3 linked regions of the Homo sapiens genome follow. The protein of the gene in region 2 interacts with the protein of the main gene of each other region in a biochemical or structural test. Each region holds a gene or a part of one and is shown on either strand. Other genes may lie near its edges. The genes, in order: RNF168, MACROH2A1 and TRIM59.

The links.
Region 1: of the proteins of MACROH2A1 (region 2) and RNF168, one has a biochemical effect on the other in vitro, tested with the Homo sapiens proteins (one study listed by BioGRID).
Region 3: of the proteins of MACROH2A1 (region 2) and TRIM59, one has a biochemical effect on the other in vitro, tested with the Homo sapiens proteins (one study listed by BioGRID).

What each region holds. Positions count from the first base shown.
Region 1 is NC_000003.12:196,468,180-196,472,842, reverse strand, and holds the end of RNF168 (E3 ubiquitin-protein ligase RNF168), read left to right. Parts: intron 1-70; coding exon 71-1,024; 3' UTR 1,025-4,060; downstream 4,061-4,663. UniProt on the Homo sapiens protein: E3 ubiquitin-protein ligase required for accumulation of repair proteins to sites of DNA damage. Acts with UBE2N/UBC13 to amplify the RNF8-dependent histone ubiquitination.
Region 2 is NC_000005.10:135,396,090-135,403,616, forward strand, and holds the start of MACROH2A1 (core histone macro-H2A.1), read right to left. Parts: upstream 3,143-7,527; 5' UTR 2,973-3,142; intron 1-2,972. UniProt on the Homo sapiens protein: Variant histone H2A which replaces conventional H2A in a subset of nucleosomes where it represses transcription. Nucleosomes wrap and compact DNA into chromatin, limiting DNA accessibility to the cellular machineries which require DNA as a template.
Region 3 is NC_000003.12:160,439,787-160,446,786, forward strand, and holds part of TRIM59 (tripartite motif-containing protein 59), read right to left. Parts: intron 1-7,000. UniProt on the Homo sapiens protein: E3 ubiquitin ligase involved in different processes such as development and immune response. Serves as a negative regulator for innate immune signaling pathways by suppressing RLR-induced activation of IRF3/7 and NF-kappa-B via interaction with adapter ECSIT.

The sequences.
Region 1 (4,663 bases), on a different chromosome or scaffold from region 2:
GTAATTAGACTTACATCTTATGATTTGATATTTTCCCCTGGTTCACTCAGTCTTTTTCTGTTTTCTACAGGACATTGACAGTAGTGATAGGAAAAGCCCAACAGGGCAAGACACAGAAATAGAAGATATGCCGACACTTTCTCCACAGATATCCCTTGGAGTTGGAGAACAAGGTGCAGATTCTTCAATAGAGTCCCCTATGCCATGGTTATGTGCCTGTGGTGCCGAATGGTACCATGAAGGAAACGTCAAAACAAGACCAAGCAATCATGGGAAAGAGTTATGTGTCTTAAGTCACGAGCGACCTAAAACCAGAGTTCCCTACTCGAAAGAAACTGCAGTTATGCCTTGTGGCAGAACAGAAAGTGGGTGCGCCCCCACATCAGGGGTGACACAGACAAATGGAAACAACACAGGTGAGACAGAAAATGAAGAGTCGTGCCTACTGATCAGTAAGGAGATTTCCAAAAGAAAAAACCAAGAATCTTCCTTTGAAGCAGTCAAGGATCCATGCTTTTCTGCAAAAAGAAGAAAAGTGTCCCCCGAATCTTCCCCAGATCAAGAGGAAACAGAAATAAACTTTACCCAAAAACTGATAGATTTGGAGCATCTACTGTTTGAGAGACATAAACAAGAAGAACAGGACAGGTTATTGGCATTACAACTTCAGAAGGAGGTGGATAAAGAGCAAATGGTGCCAAACCGGCAAAAAGGATCCCCAGATGAGTATCACTTACGCGCTACATCCTCCCCTCCAGACAAAGTGCTAAATGGACAGAGGAAGAATCCCAAAGATGGGAACTTCAAAAGGCAAACTCACACAAAGCATCCAACACCAGAGAGAGGCTCAAGGGACAAAAATAGGCAAGTGTCTTTAAAGATGCAGTTGAAGCAGTCAGTTAATAGAAGAAAGATGCCAAATTCTACTAGAGATCACTGTAAGGTATCCAAAAGTGCTCACTCCCTACAGCCTAGCATTTCACAGAAAAGTGTTTTTCAGATGTTTCAGAGATGCACAAAGTAAGGCCTGGTAAAGGGAGTGCTTTGTGATCTAGTAAAGCTGGAATGTGAAGCTCTTTCCTATCATGGAATCTTCATCCATGTGTCATTCATGCTGCTCTCTAGGCACACTCATTGTCCTTAATGAAGGTCTGTGTGATTGTAAGGACTGCATAGACACATGAGCTTCTGCACAGCTCAGCGGTAAGCAGGGGTCCCCTGTCGTTTCCCTTCTTAATAACAGATGTGTATTAAGCTTTACAATTCTTAGAGATATCTTAAGCTTTGGCCAACTCCAGGAAATCTTCAAGTGCCATTGTCTTTCCAAAAACTGCATGTTTTATGGCCTTTGCTCACCTTTTTGTCGTGACTGGTAATCAAAGCAAGATTATACTATTCTGAGTGATTAAGGAACCCATGCAGGGTTTAAAATCCATTTTCTTGCTATTGTCCAATGTTTACAGAGTACTCAAAAGGTTTTCCTAAAGTAATCTAATTTCCATCTCCAATTTAATTCAATTTTCAGCATTGTAGCATTTCCTTTGGTGTTTGTTTTTTTTTTTTAGACGGAGTTTCAAAATTTGGATTCATATTCATATGTGGGAAATCCCAGATTTTTTTTTTTTTTTTTTTTTTTTTTTTTTTTTGGAGACAGAGTCTTGCTCTGTCACGCAGGCTGGTGTGCAATGGCGCGATCTCAGCTCACTGCAACCTCCGCCTCCCGAGTTCAAGCGATTCTTCTGCCTCAGCCTCCCGAGTAGCTGGGATCATAGGCATGTGCCACTACACCCAGCTACCCAGCTAATTTTTTTTTTTTTTTGTACTTTTAGTAGAGATGGGATTTCACCATGTTGGCCAGGCTGGTCTTGAACTCCTGTCCTCAGGTGATCCACCTGCTTCGGCCTCCCAGAGTGCTGGGATTATAGGCGTGAGCCACCACGCCCGGCCTGTTTCCTTTGGTTTAAAGTGGATTCGAATCAGTGTTAAATCAGAAAATCAGGGTTTTCTAGGAAATTGGGAATTAGTTGCCAGAAAGGAAACTGAACTATGCAGAAGGAGTTAAGAGCTGGGATGAGGCTGGATGGGGTGACTGACAGTCCAGATCATTGAAACAGATTGGGTCGTCGGAAACTGGTCCAGATGAGGCTGGATGGGGTGACTGACAGTCTGGATCATTGAAACTGATTAGGTCGTCAGAAACGGGTCCAGACGAGGATGAGGCTGAGGCTGGATGGGGTGACTGACAGTCTGGATCATTGAAACTGATTGGGTGGTTGGTCAGAAACGGGTCCAGATGAGGATGAGGCTGAGGCTGGATGGGGTGACTGACAGTCTGGATCATTGAAACTGATTGGGTGGTTGGTCAGAAACGGGTCCAGATGAGGATGAGGCTGGATGGGGTGACTGACAGTCTGGATCATTGAAACTGATTGGGTCGTCAGAAACTGGTCCAGATGAGGCTGGGTGGGGTGACTGACAGTTTGGATCATTGAAACTGATTGGGTGGTCAGAAACTGGTCCAGATGAGGATGTGGCTGGATGGGGTGACTGACAGTCTGGATCATTGAAACTGATTGGGTGGTCAGAAACTGGTCCAGATGAGGATGTGGCTGGATGGGGTGACTGACAGTCTGGATCATTGAAACTGATTGGGTGGTGAGAAATGGGTCCAGATGAGGATGAGGCTGGATGGGGTGACTGACAGTCTGGATCATTGAAACTGATTGGGTGGTGAGAAATGGGTCCAGATGAGGATGAGGCTGGATGGGGTGACTGACAGTCTGGATCATTGAAACTGGTCCACTATGACGCAGCAGGGGCAGTTTGGCAGAGCATCCTCTTCCCTTGTCCTTGTGAAAGAACACAGGAAACATTTGGGTTTTACAGCTTTTCACACCCTACTATCAGGCATCAGAATCAAAATTAGTTACTAAATTGGGTGAATTTTTGGAAACCTGCATTTCTATGCATCTGCTATTCCAGAAAAAAATGGGAATGTATTACAGGAGAGTTACCTCACAGTGTCTTATGTTGTGGAACCTGAAACATAACCACGTGTTTTCTTATATGATCATTTGTGTTGATACTGCTTTTATTTGAGTTTATGAACAGAAATAGAAAGTATGGTGCTTGGGTTTTGCCCTTTCTTACTCCTGAAAGTTAAATCAGAAGACACTGATTTCATTTTGTGAAATTTAGCTCAGAGACTATTGATCTTTTGTTTCATTAATATGAACAACTATTAGTAAAAAATAGCTTTAACAGCATTTCTGCTGATATCTAGTAATCTATTCTTTTAATGTGAAAATAAGATAAAATGTCCTGGAGCTAATTCTAGCTTAAATTTGCCAGTATTTCTGTATGTCATTAAGTTTTTTTCCTCTAAGGTTGGTAATAGAATTTTGTTAATCTTTGCATACCTGATGGCATCTATGTCAATGCTGATTGGGTAATTATAAATTCTGTGCTAATTTAAAACTTAATTTGCCTCTTAAGGTGATTGTCCTCTGAGTAATGATTGTAGTTAAATGAAGTATAGCTTGCAACTATACTATCACATGGGTCGTTAAGTAAAAATAAATAAACCAAATTTGTCTGAGACAGGCTAAGATCAATCTTCTCATCAAACCAATTTTTCTCTAAGAGCAATTTCACTTTCAGTTTTAGGGTGGACATTCTTGAATGCCTCAAATTAAACGTTATCTATTTAATCTTCCTGGAATAGTCTGTGACCAAAAAGGAGGGTGTGATATATTTAGGTGTAAATATATCACATATATGGTGTGATATATTTGGGATTTATATATTCAGCTCATTCTCTGTGAAGAAGTCTTCCTGACTAAAATTGGTTTCAAGATAAACTAATTTCTGTTAGTATTTCTACTCTGCCTACCATGTATGCCTTTTTGTTAGAAACTAATAAATGTATCAGTCACTAGCAGGTACTGGTCCTTTTTCCTCTCATTTTTGTGGAAAGGATATGCAAACACTGAATTTCTCAGGGAGTACTAAGGCTGTGCAGAGGCTGAGAATCTGAAAAATAAAATACTAAAAATAAAAATGGATTATTATGTGTATTTTACCACAACTTAAAAATATGTAAAAATCAGCTACATGAAAATTAAAAGTTCTGCATAACAAAAACTACCATCAAGGGAAATTGGAAGCTGTGGCAAACTTGGGAAGAAATAGTTGCAGTTCATCACAAAGAGCTAATTTCCTTTATGTAAAGTATCCTCCAGTTCATTAAGAAAAGACCAATAACTCGGCCGTGCATGGTGGCTCACACCTGTAATCCCAGCACTTTGGGAGGCCGAGGCAGGCAGATCACCTGAAGTCAGGAGTTTGAAACCAGCCTGGCCAACATGGGGAAACGCCGTCTCTACTAAAAATACAAAAATTAGCCGGGTGTGGTGGCGTGTGCCTGTAATCCCAACTATTCGGGAGGCTGAGACAGAGAATTGCTTGAACCCAGGAGGCGGAAGTTGCAGTGAGCCAAGATTGTGCCACTGCACTCCAGCCTGGGTGACAGACTGGAGACTCCGTCTCAAAAAAAAAAAAAAAAGAAAAAAAAGAAAAGTCCTCAATAGGAGAACTAGAAATGCGTATGTTCCCAAGAAACATCATTCACAAGAAAGTAACTATAACCGGTTCTGAACTATTA
Region 2 (7,527 bases):
TGCACTGAAGGAACTGTGCAGCTTGCTACATTTTAACAGCAAGTTACTGCCTGCCTGCTTTACAAAAAAACTTTTCTACATACTCCTCTCTCTTTTAAAGGTTGTGCCAAACTCTTAAGATAACCAGTCTCACGGAAGGCTATTTAGAGAAAAGTTAAAGTGTGGGCTTCACAGGACAGGACTCTGATAAGGCTTAGCATGTAGAATCCACTCATTATTTGCCGAGTAGACGTGTTCCCAATAAGAATAAAAAGAACACCTGATCCTGTCTCTCTCCTGCTCAAAACCCTTCAGTTGCTCTTAGGATAAAGTGTGGGTCTGACCAGAATCCTTTGTGATTTGTCCTGTTTGTCCCTCCCTGAAGCCTCACCTGACTCCGCACCAGGACTCAGCCATCCCGAGCCTCTGGCAGTTCCCCACATGACCTCTGTTCTTTTCTTCTAAGATGCACACATGGGGTTCCCCAGGCCTCAAACACTTGTCCCCATCTGCCCTCCTTTGCCCAGCCATCTCCTGCTTGACCTTTCCAAGCCAGATAAGGGCTCACTCCTGGCTAGGTTACTGTACCTGCTGGGGGGCTACGTGGGGCCTTTTGCACTGATTTTACAACAGCTACTTGCCTGCCTTCTCCCAAAGTCAGCTCCCCCAAGGTAGGGGCTAGGCATTTCTTAATCACGGCTGTGTCCCCAGTGCCTGAACAGGAGCTGATTCTCAGGAAATCTTTATGGAAAGACTCTGAGACACTGACCTGACAGGTTTGGTCCAAGCAAACAAGCTATACAACTCTTTGGAATGAAGAGTTGACTCACTCAGGCTCACTTGTAAGCACTGAGGCAGGGCCCAAAAGACCTCTAAACCTACAGAATATGGGAAGGACCCACAGAGATCTGGGCCCCAATCACTCCTGCCCCTTCCCAGCCCATGTTCTAGGAATGGGGCTCTGAAAAGGCTGTCACAAATCCTTGGGGACACTCAAATAAAACCAGAGGCTGTTGCAGTTCTGATGAACAACACATATAGAGTCTTGTTGGGTTCTTCGGCTTGAGGTTTTCAGTTTATGCTTTTATTTAAATAAATCTCCTTTAGGTGACTTGGGGCCGCATTAGCTCTGAAGGCAGGTCCCAGAACACATGCCCTCTGAGCTTCTCAGTGGGGAAGGAATGCGAGGCGCTCCTCAAGTTCGCCTCTCTCAGGGACCAGAAGAAACATCAGATGGAGATGTGTCACTCCCTGACACTGGCCCATTTGGTAAAAACTAAACCAGTGGCATGGTTGTATACTAGAATGTCACATGTGAAGTTCCAGACAATTCTTAAAGTTTAATAAAATGTGAGTTAAATTATGCCTCCTTCTAAAGGCCTGCCTCAAACAATTTTCATTTAGACAACCCTCTTAATGCCTTATCTAGGGATCAGCATTAACAATGGTGACAGATCGAAGCCAAAGAACAGACTGGAAAGATTTCTCTCTCCTTGTAAAACTAGAAGGGGGAAGAATTTGAAGTCTTTCAAGAGTTTTGTTGTGTTTAAGAAAAAATAAGTTTGAAAACATACTCATCCTCATCAGAGAGTCTCTTGTGCAAGACTGAGATGCTGCTGCCCAACTCTAGTTAAATGTGTACAATGGGTATTAATTCCAGTTGCAGGCAAGAGGTGTCCATTTCAGAGTTAACACCTCTGACAACAGGCTAGTAGCCTAAAGGTGGCCTGCAGTAGGTGAATTCCACCTAATTTACAACTCGAGTCTCCCATTCAAACCTAAGACTGTTAAAAAATGCCCGACTCCCTGGAGCAGGGAGCTTTGGAACAAAACACTTCCCTTACCCCCTACTTTAACGGTAAAACCTCAAACCACAAAGGTGGAAGAAAAGAGGGAAGCTAGCAGGAGTGCCCCCTCTAATTGTCTATTCTTATGTGCTGTTTACTGGGTCATTAAAATCTTACAAGGCCTTTATAGTCATTGTAATTGTTGAATTCAAGGTTTGTCCCAGTTGTTTGTACAGAAGTCTCTCACTTTGAAACTCAGAAACATTTCCCCTAACATCTTGTCTAAAAGAACCTTTCAAGCAATGTACTGACCAACTCCTTGAGTGATCTGTGGCCCCTGCAGGAGTGGGGGTAGGGAGCGCCATGTCGCACACCTGTTGTCAGGTGACACTGCCAGCAGCATCCTGCACACTCACCTCCCCACTCCACCCCACCCCCAGCGAGGCTCTTTCCTGCTGGCCTTCTCCACCCGGGGAAGCCTACAGCCTTCCGGAGTTACCTTTTAAAAAAAGCAAACCCTTCCTACCACAAAGCAAACAAAAGGCTGATACCGAGACAATCGGGAGCAGCGGGGGTTCCCGTGGCCCCTCTCCAGCCCATCCTTGGACCACTCCCCAACCCGGTCCCCCGCACCAGCCCGGCTTCAATCCCGCGAGTAGCCCCCGCCTTCCCCTCCCTGCAGATAGCGAGCCAGACGCCTACACCTCGGCCCCCCGGGGCTCGGGCCCGACTTATTGTGCCGGGGCCGGCAACTCGCGGGCCGGCGGGGGCCTCACCAAGTACAACTCTGCTCACAGCAGCTCCCGGGTGCCCAGGCCCAGACTGCCTAGCCAGCGCCGCGGGGCCTCCTGCGGCCTCGGGCCTGGCCCGTGAGCCCGCCCCAGGAAGGGTCGCCAGGGTAGGCGCCAGCACCGCTTTTTTCCCACAAAAGCGCCCAGGCGCGGGCAGGGGGATGCGTTTCGAAGAGAAGTTGGTTTCCAGGTTTCTTTTTTGAACAAAACCAAAGGGAATCCCGCGCGGCCCGACAAGGCCTGGGAGGACGTAGTGCACGCGCGAGGACCCGGCGTGGGCCACACCGAACCCGGCGGCCCGAGCCCGGCCCGCACCACACCGGTGCGCGCCAGGCCGGGCCGCTCCCGGGCACCCGCGGCCGGACCCGAGCGGCGGGGACAGGGAGTGCGGCAAGGGGGCCCGCGCGGCACTTACGCGGCGGCTCGGTGGCGGCGGCGGCAGCTGCAAGGTGTCTCGGCCTGAGCCCTCCTGGCCGCTCGCGCCTTTTCTCTCCGCGCTCCTCGCTGGCCCGCCCGCCTCTTCGCTTCCCGCCCGCGCGGCCCGCGCTCTCCCCCTCCGCCCGGCGCCGCTGCCGAGTGAACTGGAACCAGTCCTCGCGGCCGGCTTCCCACAATGCACAGCGCGCCGCTCGTCACATCCCTTCGCGGCCCCGAGCGTCCGGCCTCCGCGCCCGTGCCGCCCGGCGCCCCGGCCTTGACCCCGGGCCCGCGCCCTACCCGTTGACGCCGGCCGCTCTGCGCCCAGGCACCAGCCCGCACCCCGGACGCGAGGTCTGACCCATGACCCCGGGGACGCCCAGAGCCCAGTCCTTGGGAAGGGCCAGGCCCCTGGAGAGGAGCTTCTTCAGGGCGCGTCCCAGACTCTGCGTCTCGAGTGAACGCCTACTGTGTGCCTGGCTCTGAGCACGGGACTGTCGCTGCCACGGCATCTTTAGGAACCTTCCCACTAACCCAGTGGGAAGGCACAATGGCTGTTACCAGCGATCGCTCTTCCCTCCCCAGTCAATGCCAACTCCCCCCTGCCCCGCCTCAGAGACCCCGCTGTCTTTAGATACAGGCCACCGCCAAGCCCTGGTCTGCCCCAAGATCAATTACTGCGCACCCGGTTCCCCTGGGGTCCTTCAGTTAATCCTCCTCACCCCGAAGTCTGGAACCTGCCTTGCACATGGAAGCGGTTAGCTACTTCGCTTCAGCAAAAGTTCACTTTCGGACCCAAGTTGGGAATTACTAATGTAGACAGTGATTCCTTATCATCACACACGTTTTTTAAAAACTGCGGACAGGCCGAAAGAGGAGGAGCCGCCACAAAGCCCGCCACGTCTTCCTAAATTGGTTTACCGCCTGAAGGCATTGGTGCCCCATCCCGGGTACTTAAATGGGGGCCTGCCCTCTACTCCCCTCCCTCCAAAGTGTGGAGCCGGAAGCCACTTCTCCATCCAGCTGTGAACTAAATTTGGATAATAATACACATCCCTCAGGGTTGATGTGAAGTTTAAAGTGCCGCTACTGGGGATTATGGAGGTAATTAGAGACCCCCACCCCCACCCCCCAGTCCTCAGGCTGCGCGGGAATCGCAGCGGCAGTAACCTCCACCTCACCGGGATGCTTTACACCTTACTTTAAGAGTTTGCAAAACAATGTCCAATACCTGCCATTCATGCATTCGTTAATTCGATTAAGTACTGAGAACGTATTTTGTGTCATACATCGATTTGGGTGCTGGATATGAAACAGCCAAGAGAACAGGCAGAAATCTCTGCCCTCCTGTAGTTTGCAGTCTCGTGGGGGAAAGACAGACAAACGGGAGAATGTGTCAGAGGGTCTCCATGGGGTGGAGAAAAATAAGGCGGAGAAGGGGAATAGGAAGTGTGAGATAAGAGTGAGGCTCAAATACAAGAGAAGGCCTCTATGAGAAAGTAACATTTAAAGCCTGAAGAAATTGAGGGAGCAAGCCGTGTGGATGTCTGGGGAAGAACTGCGCCGAGCATGAGGAATAGCAAGTGCAAAGGCTGGGGTAGGAGTGTGTCCAAAATAGTCAAGACAGAGCGAGTGTGAGGTTGGAGTAGAATGGGTGAAGGGGAAAGTAACAGGAGATGAAGCTGGAAAAATGATGATGCTTATGATGCTTCTGGTCCCAAAACAAAGCATTATGGTTCTATGAGGATCTCCCGAAGAAAAGATGTCAGGAAAGGTGCAGAGACCCTCCCCCACACACCACATTGTTGTTCCATCCTTCTCTGTGCCTTTGGGCAAGGACTCTCCGTTCTGTAGGGACCACCAGGTGGAATTAAAGTCTACACTCCTCCAAGAGCTGATCTTGGGGCGGCCCCACCTCCATGCCCCTCTACAGCGTGCCATTCTCATAGAACACACTAGGACCTTTGTCCTCTGGAGCTGTTCAGTGCAGCAGCTCTGACCTCATCCTTCTCCAGAAGCCTCCACCTTCTCTCCCCTCTCTCCTCCTGCGCTTTGTGTGTCCTGTTCTTCCACTTCGGTGACCTGTCTCCTCCCCTAATCTGGCTCAGAGAGGGGTACCAGCTGCTGCTGCTGCTATTGCTTCTTCTTCTGTTAAAGGTTTTTTATTTTTTTCCAATGACAAAGCTATGCTCATTCTGAAAACATGAAAAATAAAAATGCTCAAAAAATAAAACTCACTCTACATTCATTGCTAGGAGAGAACAGCCTGCTCCCATTCCAGCCTTTTTATCTATATCCACTTAACATTAAACATACAGAGTTTCTACTCTATTTAGTGATTGTCACCTGCACTTTAAACTTAATGGTTCTTTATGAGCATTTTACTGGGTAGTTGTTCTACAATAACATTACTGGAACTGTTTGGGTTTCCCTTGACCCTCTTAAAAATTACTGAGAACCCTGAAGAGCTTTTGTTTTATAGGTTACATCTATCAATATTTGCTTTATTAGAAATAAAAACTGAGAAAAAGTAAATATTTATTAATTTATTTTAAAAATGTTAACATGGAAAGAAATTATATTACATAAATAATGTATTTTAGAAAAATAATTATACTTTCCAAACAAAAATAATTAGTGGGAAGAGTGGCATTGTTTTACAGTTTTGCACGGCTCTTGAATGTCTGGTGTAATAGAAGATAGCTGGTTTCATGCCTCCTCCTGCATTCAGTCGGTCACTATATGTTGTTTTGTTTGAAGTATGTGAAGAAAATTCAGCCTTATGTAGATATGTATATGGGAAAGAATAGAGGATTTTAATCGCCTTTTCAGATAATTACAGATGTTCTTTTTTCATACCACACCAAAATGCAAGGAGTCGTTTCTTAAAGGTTAAGTGCAATGTAGAACCTGAAAAAAAAAATCAATAAACTTTTGAACTCAGTTAATACATTAAAATCCATTGGCCTATTTTATATCTTGACTGGGTCCTTTAGCTATGCATAATTTGGTAAAATCATACATTGATCATTTGGGAAATATCAGTTCACTGATTTATACGGATCTTACAAATGTAAACACATTTCATTGTACAATATTAGAAAATCACATCTATTAATAGCACCACTGATCTCATCTGAAGGTTTTTGAGTATTGGGAAGTTGTCAAGCTCTTGGTGGCAGATACGAGTTTCCCAAAATTGTAATTTCTGCTTGAAAGCTCAAGTTTATCACTGACAACATAATGTCACAGTGATTTTCCTAGAAATGACAGGTTCATTTCATTCATTTTCAAGAAAATGTCTACCACAAACAAAGGACCACATTATGACTTTCATGGGCCATAGGCATTTTTGCCTGCATGGGCCCTTTCCTCCACTAAAAAGACAACTGCACTGGTATAAAGACAAATAAATTAATATTGTATATTAAAACTGTGCCTCGTGGAGTATTCAGCCCTACGTACACCCAATTCTGAATACCCATAGTTTGTCTGTCAGGTGTAGCTTCTCCATTAGAAACAGTACTCAGGCCCCCAGGACTTTATGGGCCCACGAAAATGTCTTAATTTCTTTTAAAATCAGAAGAAAATGAAAGTTAGTTCTTTTATATTGAAGAAAATATTTTAATATATAATGTTAATATATTTGTCTTTCTACGAACACGGTTGTAAAATTTTTTTTCTATTGTTTTATAGAAGAAGGGACTCATGAAGGTAAAAGTGCCTAGGGCCATGAAAGTGTAATGCAGCCTTGCTGTCAGCCCTTGTTTCAAGAAAAGCTAGTGTTCCATGAGAAAAGCAGCTAGTTTAACTCACAGCTCAATTGCACACGTGCTTCTCCTCAAGATGACCATCCTAGTAGAAATGCTGTATGCGTACTTCCCATTTGGTCACGTGGAATATTTTAAAATGTGTTCCAAAGGGTCAGATTTAATAAAATTAATGCTTTTTACTGTTTCATCAGGACATTCTTAAGTTAAACTGGCTCTCTTTTTTTTTTTTTTTTTTTTTTTTTGGCTGTGAGTGCTTCATAATAAATAATAAAATGATGATGAGTATGGGATGATGCCATTGCTGATTTGTGGTAAGTCGCCAGCAGTTTTATCCACTACTGTTCTTGCACCATTTGTGCAAAGATCAACACAGGGAAAAGTCAAATAATGTCTTAATGTTAACATGAAAATAGTTGTGACTTTTTGTACCTCCAGGAAGGGTCTCAGTGACCTTCGGGGGACTGCAGACTACATTTTGAGAACTACTGCTTCACAATATCCACAAGCTTGGCCATCGTTAATTTAACCAACTCCTTATTTTTTCTTCTTTCAGGCTGTTTCCAACTCTATTATAAAGATGTTATGAATATTTTTAAAGATTGGCCAGGCGCAGTGGCCCACGCCTATTACCCCAGCACTCTGTCAGGCCAAGGTGGGCAAATCCCTTGAGGTCAGGAGTTTGAGACCAGCCTGGCTAACATGGTGAAACCCCATCTCTACTAAAAATACAAAAATTAGCTGGGCGTGGTATGCGGGCCTGTAACTGCATCTAGTCAGGAA
Region 3 (7,000 bases), on a different chromosome or scaffold from region 2:
CAGGTATGTCTTTATCAGCAGCATGAAAACAGACTAATACACTACATAATAAAGACTAAAATTCAAAGTGTTCTGTTAAAGTCTACTTAGTGATTACAACTATTTTGTGCAACATTTTAACATTTAAGATGATAAAATCAAAACCAAGCACATATAATGAGTAGACAAGACTATTTCTATTACAACAAGTTAGGCTTAGCAAAAGTATATTCTTTAACACAAAAGGAGGAAACATGTCCCAGTTGGCTCAATAATGGTTTCTAAAGCAAGCTATCAAATTTCTCCACAGTAACTGTTACTACCATAAATTTTTTAGCTTCTCAAATTAGAATACAAGAACGCTTAAACCCCAGGATCAGCATAGTATAATTCTCTAAAGCAATAATTTTAACTTGCAGATTTAGAAGACAGAAAAATTTTGAATTAATTCTTATAATAAAAATCAGTTTGAAAGATAAGAGTTGACTATAGTAACTGTGAATTAATTTTTAAGTGAAAAACTAGAGCACTAAATGGTAAAGAACAAAAAGAAGACCATTAGTCATCTTTCCTTCATGAAAGTCTCTCGATCCGTATTTCTCTGAGACAGAAAAAGAAACGTAGCGATAGTTCAGAGACCATCTCTGACACAAGTAACTTGACCTCTTGGCAAGCTACTACTGATATTTCCAGTAACAGAAGCCTGACCATTTTGCACCCTACCACCTCCTACTGCTTTCCTTTATACCTACCCTCAATGCATCAGCCACAATTCTAAAGACTAGCTTACCCCTTGATAGAGAAAAATCAAGTTATACCACTGTTGAAAGTACCTTAGGCAAAACTTAAAAACCCAAGTGCCATGGCCAGGCGCAGTGGTTCACGCATATAATCCCAGCACTTTGGGAGGCCGAGGCGGGCGGATCACCTGAGGTTGGGAGTTTGAGACCAGCCTGACCAACATGGAGAAACTCCATCTCTACTAAAAATACAAAATTAGCCCAGTGTGGTGTCAAATGCGTGTAATCCCAGCTACTTGGGAGGCTGAGACAGGAGAATTGCTTGAACTCAGTAGGTGGCGGTTGCAGTGAGCCAAGATTACACCACCGCACTCATCTGGACAACAAGAGCGAAACTCCGTCTCAAAAAAAATAAACACCCAAGTGCCATTCACGTAAAATATAAAGGTTACCAAATCACATGCTATAAAACTAACTTTTAAGATTAAAAATCTGTGAAAACAGCAACTAAAAGTAACTAACTGCATTTTTAATAAAATGCAAACTTGGCTCCTTATCTTTACGATCTGTCAAACTCTTAACTCTTCCTTCAAGGCTCAACTTGAGCCTGCCTTTTCCCCAGATTAGGTCCCCTGTTATTCTCATTAAACACTGCATTTTTACTTCATAGCACTTTAACAAGATTTTATTTAAGAATTTTGTAACTTTTCTGTATACATTAGAATGTAGGCCTCCTATAAGGGCAGGAATTGTGTCTAAACAATGGTTATATTCCTGCAATTTAGGCACAAATTTTAACACTGCAGGCATTCACTTGTTACTGCTTCAATGAACAAATGCCTTTTCAGAGACCTGTGTTAATACAGATTTTTGTTTTGGGGTTTTTTGTTTTTTGTTTTTTTAATAGCAAAATCTCTGCTTAGGAAAAGGTGTAAAACGAAAATCTATCAGAAAATACTCCATTCAGGCCAGGTGCGGGGGCTCACGCCTGTAATCTCCGCACTTTGGGAGGCCGAGGTGGGTGAATCATGAGGTCAGGTGATTGAGACCATCCTGCCTAACAGGGTGAAACCCCGTCTCTACTAAAAATACAAAAAAATTAGCCAGGTGTGGTGGTGGGCGCCTGTAGTCCCAGCCACTTGGGAGGCTAAGGCAGGAGAATGGCGTCAACCCGGGAGGCAGAGCTTGCAGTGAGCCAAGTTCACACCACTGCACACCAGCCTGGGCAACAGAGTGAGACTCCATCTCAAAAAAAAAAAAAAAAAAAGAAAAAAGAAAAAAAGCACTCCATTCAAACTGACAATATTCAGATCCCGAATGAGCCAAAGTGTGTCACACAGAGACTAAGCTTGAACTGTAGAGCATTCCAGCAAATTAAAGTAATTGAGCAACAGTAAAGAAGATGACATTCACTGCAGATAAATTCAAGTGAGTGCATGCTGGCAAGACTTTACAACTTTACCCTACACCTACAGAAAGCTATGAAGTCATACAGAAACCACCCAAGAAAAACAAATGTGTTTTTCAGAGTATTTCAGTGATGTCAGAATTCACATTGAAGGAATAAACAGAATAACACTTTGTAGGAAATAAAATTTGAGCAGTCGACGTACATTTAATCTAGATTTAATATTACTGGAGCTATTCAATTGTTTAAGTAGCAAAACTAGTCCTAAAACAGAATCTAACTTTTCTATCCAAACCCCTATTCTATGCTTGCAGAAAACTAGGGAACAACTCTGAGAATGCACTTAGGGGCCCAAAAGCTCAACTTTCTTTAGAATGAGAATATTCATGACATTGTAAAGCATATCCTAAGCTTATATAAAATGGAAGCAGGCCAAAGCAGGTGGATCACTTGAGGCAAGGAGTTTGAGACCAGCCTGGCCAACATGGTGAAACCCTGTATCTACTAAAAATACAAAAATTAGCCAGGCATGGTGGCGCACACCTGTAATCCCTATAATCCCAGCTACTCGGGAAGCTGAGGCATGAAATGGCGCAACTGCACTCCAGCCAGGGCAACAGAGCAAGACTCTGTCTCAAAAAAAGGAAAAAAAAAAAATAGGAAGCAAAAATCGTGGTTGGTCTCAAAGTTACTGCTATCATATGTAAAATTTTTAATAATACTTTTTAGACAAAAATTTGTGGATAACTTGAAGTTCACAGAAGTCAAAATCTATTCTCAGACTACCCTTTTCTCACTGATTTATTGATTAAAAACTAATTTTAGGCAACAAATTCAAGAGAAACTAGAACTGAAAAATAACTTTGTAAGGTCAGGAACTTTCTGACTCTGGTTGCTGCCTGAGAAGTAAACTATATAGGTGGGCCAGGTGCAGTGGTTCACACCTGTAATTCCAGCACTTTGGGAGGCCAAGGTGGGAAGATCACTTGAAGCCAGGAGTTCAAGACCAACCTGGGCAACACCAAGAGACCCCCATTCTCTACAAAAAATTAAACATTAGTCAGGCACAGTGATACACGCCTATAATCCCAGCTACGCGGGGAGCTGAGGCAGGAGGATCACTTGAGCCCAAGAAGTTGAGGCTGCAGTGAGCCACGACTGTGCCACTGCACTCCAGCCTAGGCAACAGAGCAAGACCCTGCCTTTTTTAGAAAAAAAAAAGATACAGGTGGCTACCATGCTTACAGGCTAGTTCTTTCAGAAACCAATATGAAATTTTATGCAGCAGAAATTTTCCACAACCAGTCTAGGCTTCTGAAAGGAAGAAAAAGAACAAAAAATTAACCTATGTATATTTTCTAGGATGAACATCTTGGATTTAGCTATGCTGTATGTAGGTTTCCAAACAGTAAAAACATCAGTAACACTGGAAACAATAAGACAATGGAGTAATGCCTTTGATATTCTCAGGGGAAAAAAAATGGCTTCTGAAATGGAAATTAAAACTCTATACCTAGAAAAAAAATAATCCATTTTTATATAAAGACAGTTGGACAATATAAGATCTCAAAAATGAACAACCTTCTTCCAACTCTTTCTAAAGAAGCTACTGCAGGGAGAAAAGAAAAGCAAGAATGTTCGCCAGCATAATGGCGAAATGAAGTCCAGGACAACTGTGAAAGCCTAGGGAAGAGTCACTCTAGAAGAGGAAGAAAGATCCAAAAGACAGATCTTTTTTTTTTTGAAACAGAGTCTCGCTCTGTCGCCCAGGCTGGAGTGCAGTGGCCGCTATCTCCTCTCACTGCAAGCTCCGCCTCCTGGGTTCATGCCATTCTCCTGCCTCAGCTTCCCGAGCAGCTAGGACTACAGGCGCCCGCCACCACGCCCAGCTAATTTTTTTGTATTTTTAGTAGAGATGGGGTTTCACCATGATAGCCAGGTTGGTCTCAATCTCCTGACCTCATGATCCACCTGCCTCGACCTCCCAAAGTGCTGTGATTTCAGGCATGCAGAAGACAGATCTTTAAGTAAATAAATGGAACTGACAGAAATGCTTCATGTATATGAAACATATTGAGAGGTAACTAAATTTAGGGAAAAAACGTGATAGAATCATGAAAAGAGAGGAAATATTAATATTATAGTATATGGCTCAGCTGTCACTGTAACAGTCATAATATTGTAAATATCAAATACTGATTTTACCAAAGAGTAACAAAATTATATTGAGGGGGAAAATAAGGGAAGGAAACAGTTTAAGAACTAAATCTTAATTTTTCCTTATAAGAAAGTCAATACATACTTAAAAAATAACCCACAAAAAATAAATATCTAGAAATATAAAAGAAAATACCAAAAGAAATGTTAAAGCAGATAAAAGTGATGGCTTCTAGAGGGAAAGAATCTGTTTTTCATTATAAATCATGGTTTCGCTTTTAACTATTAAGCAATTAAAAATATAATACAATTTTAAAGAAATAAGAACAATTCTACAAGTATCCACACAGAAAAGAAGGATGAAAAAAGGAAAACTAAACCAAAGGTCTCAGAATCCTCCTCTGGGAGACTGGAATTTCCAAAATTGGAATGGCCACAATAATTATCTCCCACATGAGCTGTCCTATAATGTGACTTTGCTGCTACTCCCTGCACATGGAGATGAAATCTATTCTCCCCCATTAGAATATGTGTGGGCCATGTGACTGTTCTGACCAATAGGATACAGTATAAGTGATGTGGTGAGTTCTAGGTATAGCCCTTAACTAGTTTGGCAGGTTGCTGCCTCGGAGCCACAAACTGCTATGTAAGAAGTCCAGGCTACTTTGCTGAAGAGACAGGCCAAATAGAAGGGCAAGGAGTTTCCAGACACATGAGTGAAAAAGACATCTTGAATATCTGGCCAGCCAAGCTTTCAGATGTTTGTTACACAGCAGGAAATAACCAGAACATCACCAGCAACAAGGAATGCTAGAACAGAATGTAGCAATGTCCACAAAGACTAGAAGGAAAGGGATATGAGCTGAGAATTCTGTACACAGCCACGACATAATTTATTCATGTGAAACAACAGAAATACTCTTCAGTAAAATCTACAGAGCTAAAAAAAAATTACATGGGCAGAGCTGACACCATACACTTTACTTACCAAACCAAAAGGAATATAAAATAATTCAACTAAAAAAAAAAAAGAGGAAAAGTGGAAAAAAAAGAATAAAAATTGGCCTGGTGTAATGGCTCATACCTGTAATCCCAGCACTGTGGAAGGCCAAGGTGGGAGGATCACTTGAGCCCAGCAATTCGAGACCAGCCCTGGCAACACAGTGAAACCCCATCTCTACAAAAAATAAAAAACTTAGCTAAGTATGGTGGCGCACGCCTGTTAGTCCCAGCTACTCAGGAGGCTGAGGAGGGAGGATTGCTTGAGCCTGGGAGGTCCAGGCTGCAATGAGCCATGAGCCACGGTCGTTCCACTGCATTCCAGCCTAGACTACAGAGCCACACTTTGTCTCAAAAAATAAAAAAAGAATAAAGATAAATGGAAGATGATAATGAACTAGAAAACTTAAATTGCTAGAACTGGCTGGGCACTGTGGCTCACACCTGCAATCCCAGCACCTTGGGAGGCCGAGACAGGCGGACCACCTGAAGTCAGGAGTTCAAGACCAGCCTAGCCAACATGACAAAACCCCATCTCTACTAAAAATACAAAAATTAGCTGGGCAGGGTGACAGACGCCTATAATCCCAGCTACTCGGGAGGCTGAGGCAGGAGAATCGCTTAAACCTGGGAGGCGGAGATTGCAGTGAGCTGAGATCATGCCACTGCACTCCAGTCTGGGTGACAGAGCAAGACTCTGTCTCAAAAAAAAAAAAAAAAAAAAATTGCTAGAACTGATAAACCCAAGAGATGGCTCTTTTTGAGACTGAGTCTTGCTCTGTCACCAGGGCTGGAATGCAGTGGTGTGACCATGGCTCACTGCAGCCTCAACTTCCCAGGCTCAAACAATCCTCCCAGCTCAGCCTCCCAAGTAGCTGATAGGTGCATGTTAACACACATGCCTAATGTTTTTATGCTTTGTAGAGATAGGGTCTCACTACGTTGCCCAGGCTGGTCTCAAACCCCTAGCCTCAAGACATCCTTCCCCCCTCAGCCTCCCAAAGTGCTGAGATTACAGCTGTGAGCCACCATGACCAGTCTAAGAATTGGTTCTTTAAGTAAATAAACAAGCCATTAGCTATCTGTGATAGGTAGCCTCTAAAATGGCCCCCAATGACCTACACTTTCTGGATACTCTTGAAATCTCCTCTCCCTTGAGTGTGGACTAGGCCCTACTCAACTGTTCCAGAATACAAATATGAAAAGTTTGCTAAATATTTTGAAGACAGTATAACATGATTCCAAAACCTGAGACAATACAAACTAAAAATGGACTAATTTCAAAAATGGACACTGATGTAAAATTCTAAATACAATGTTAGCAAAAACAAACACAGGAGTACATTAAAAAAAACACTGTACCATGACTAAATAAGGTTCTTTCCAGAAATACAAAGTTAATTCAATAACGAAAAATCTATTAATATAATTCAGTCAATTAGTTCAATGGAAAAAAAATTTACATTCACATTATATGTGAAAAAAGCATATAATATATATAATATCAAAACCAATAAGCAGTCCTCAAAGACAGAAAGTAGAATGGTAGTTGCCAGGGCTTGAGAGCAGGGAAGATGTAGAGTTATCATTTAATGCAGGGGTCCTCAACCCTTCCTACCCACCCTGCGCCCCCACCATGGTGGCGGGCAAGCCCACCTGAGCTCCGCCTCGAGCCCACCTGAGCTCCGCCTCCTGCCAGTGTCAGCATTAGATTCTC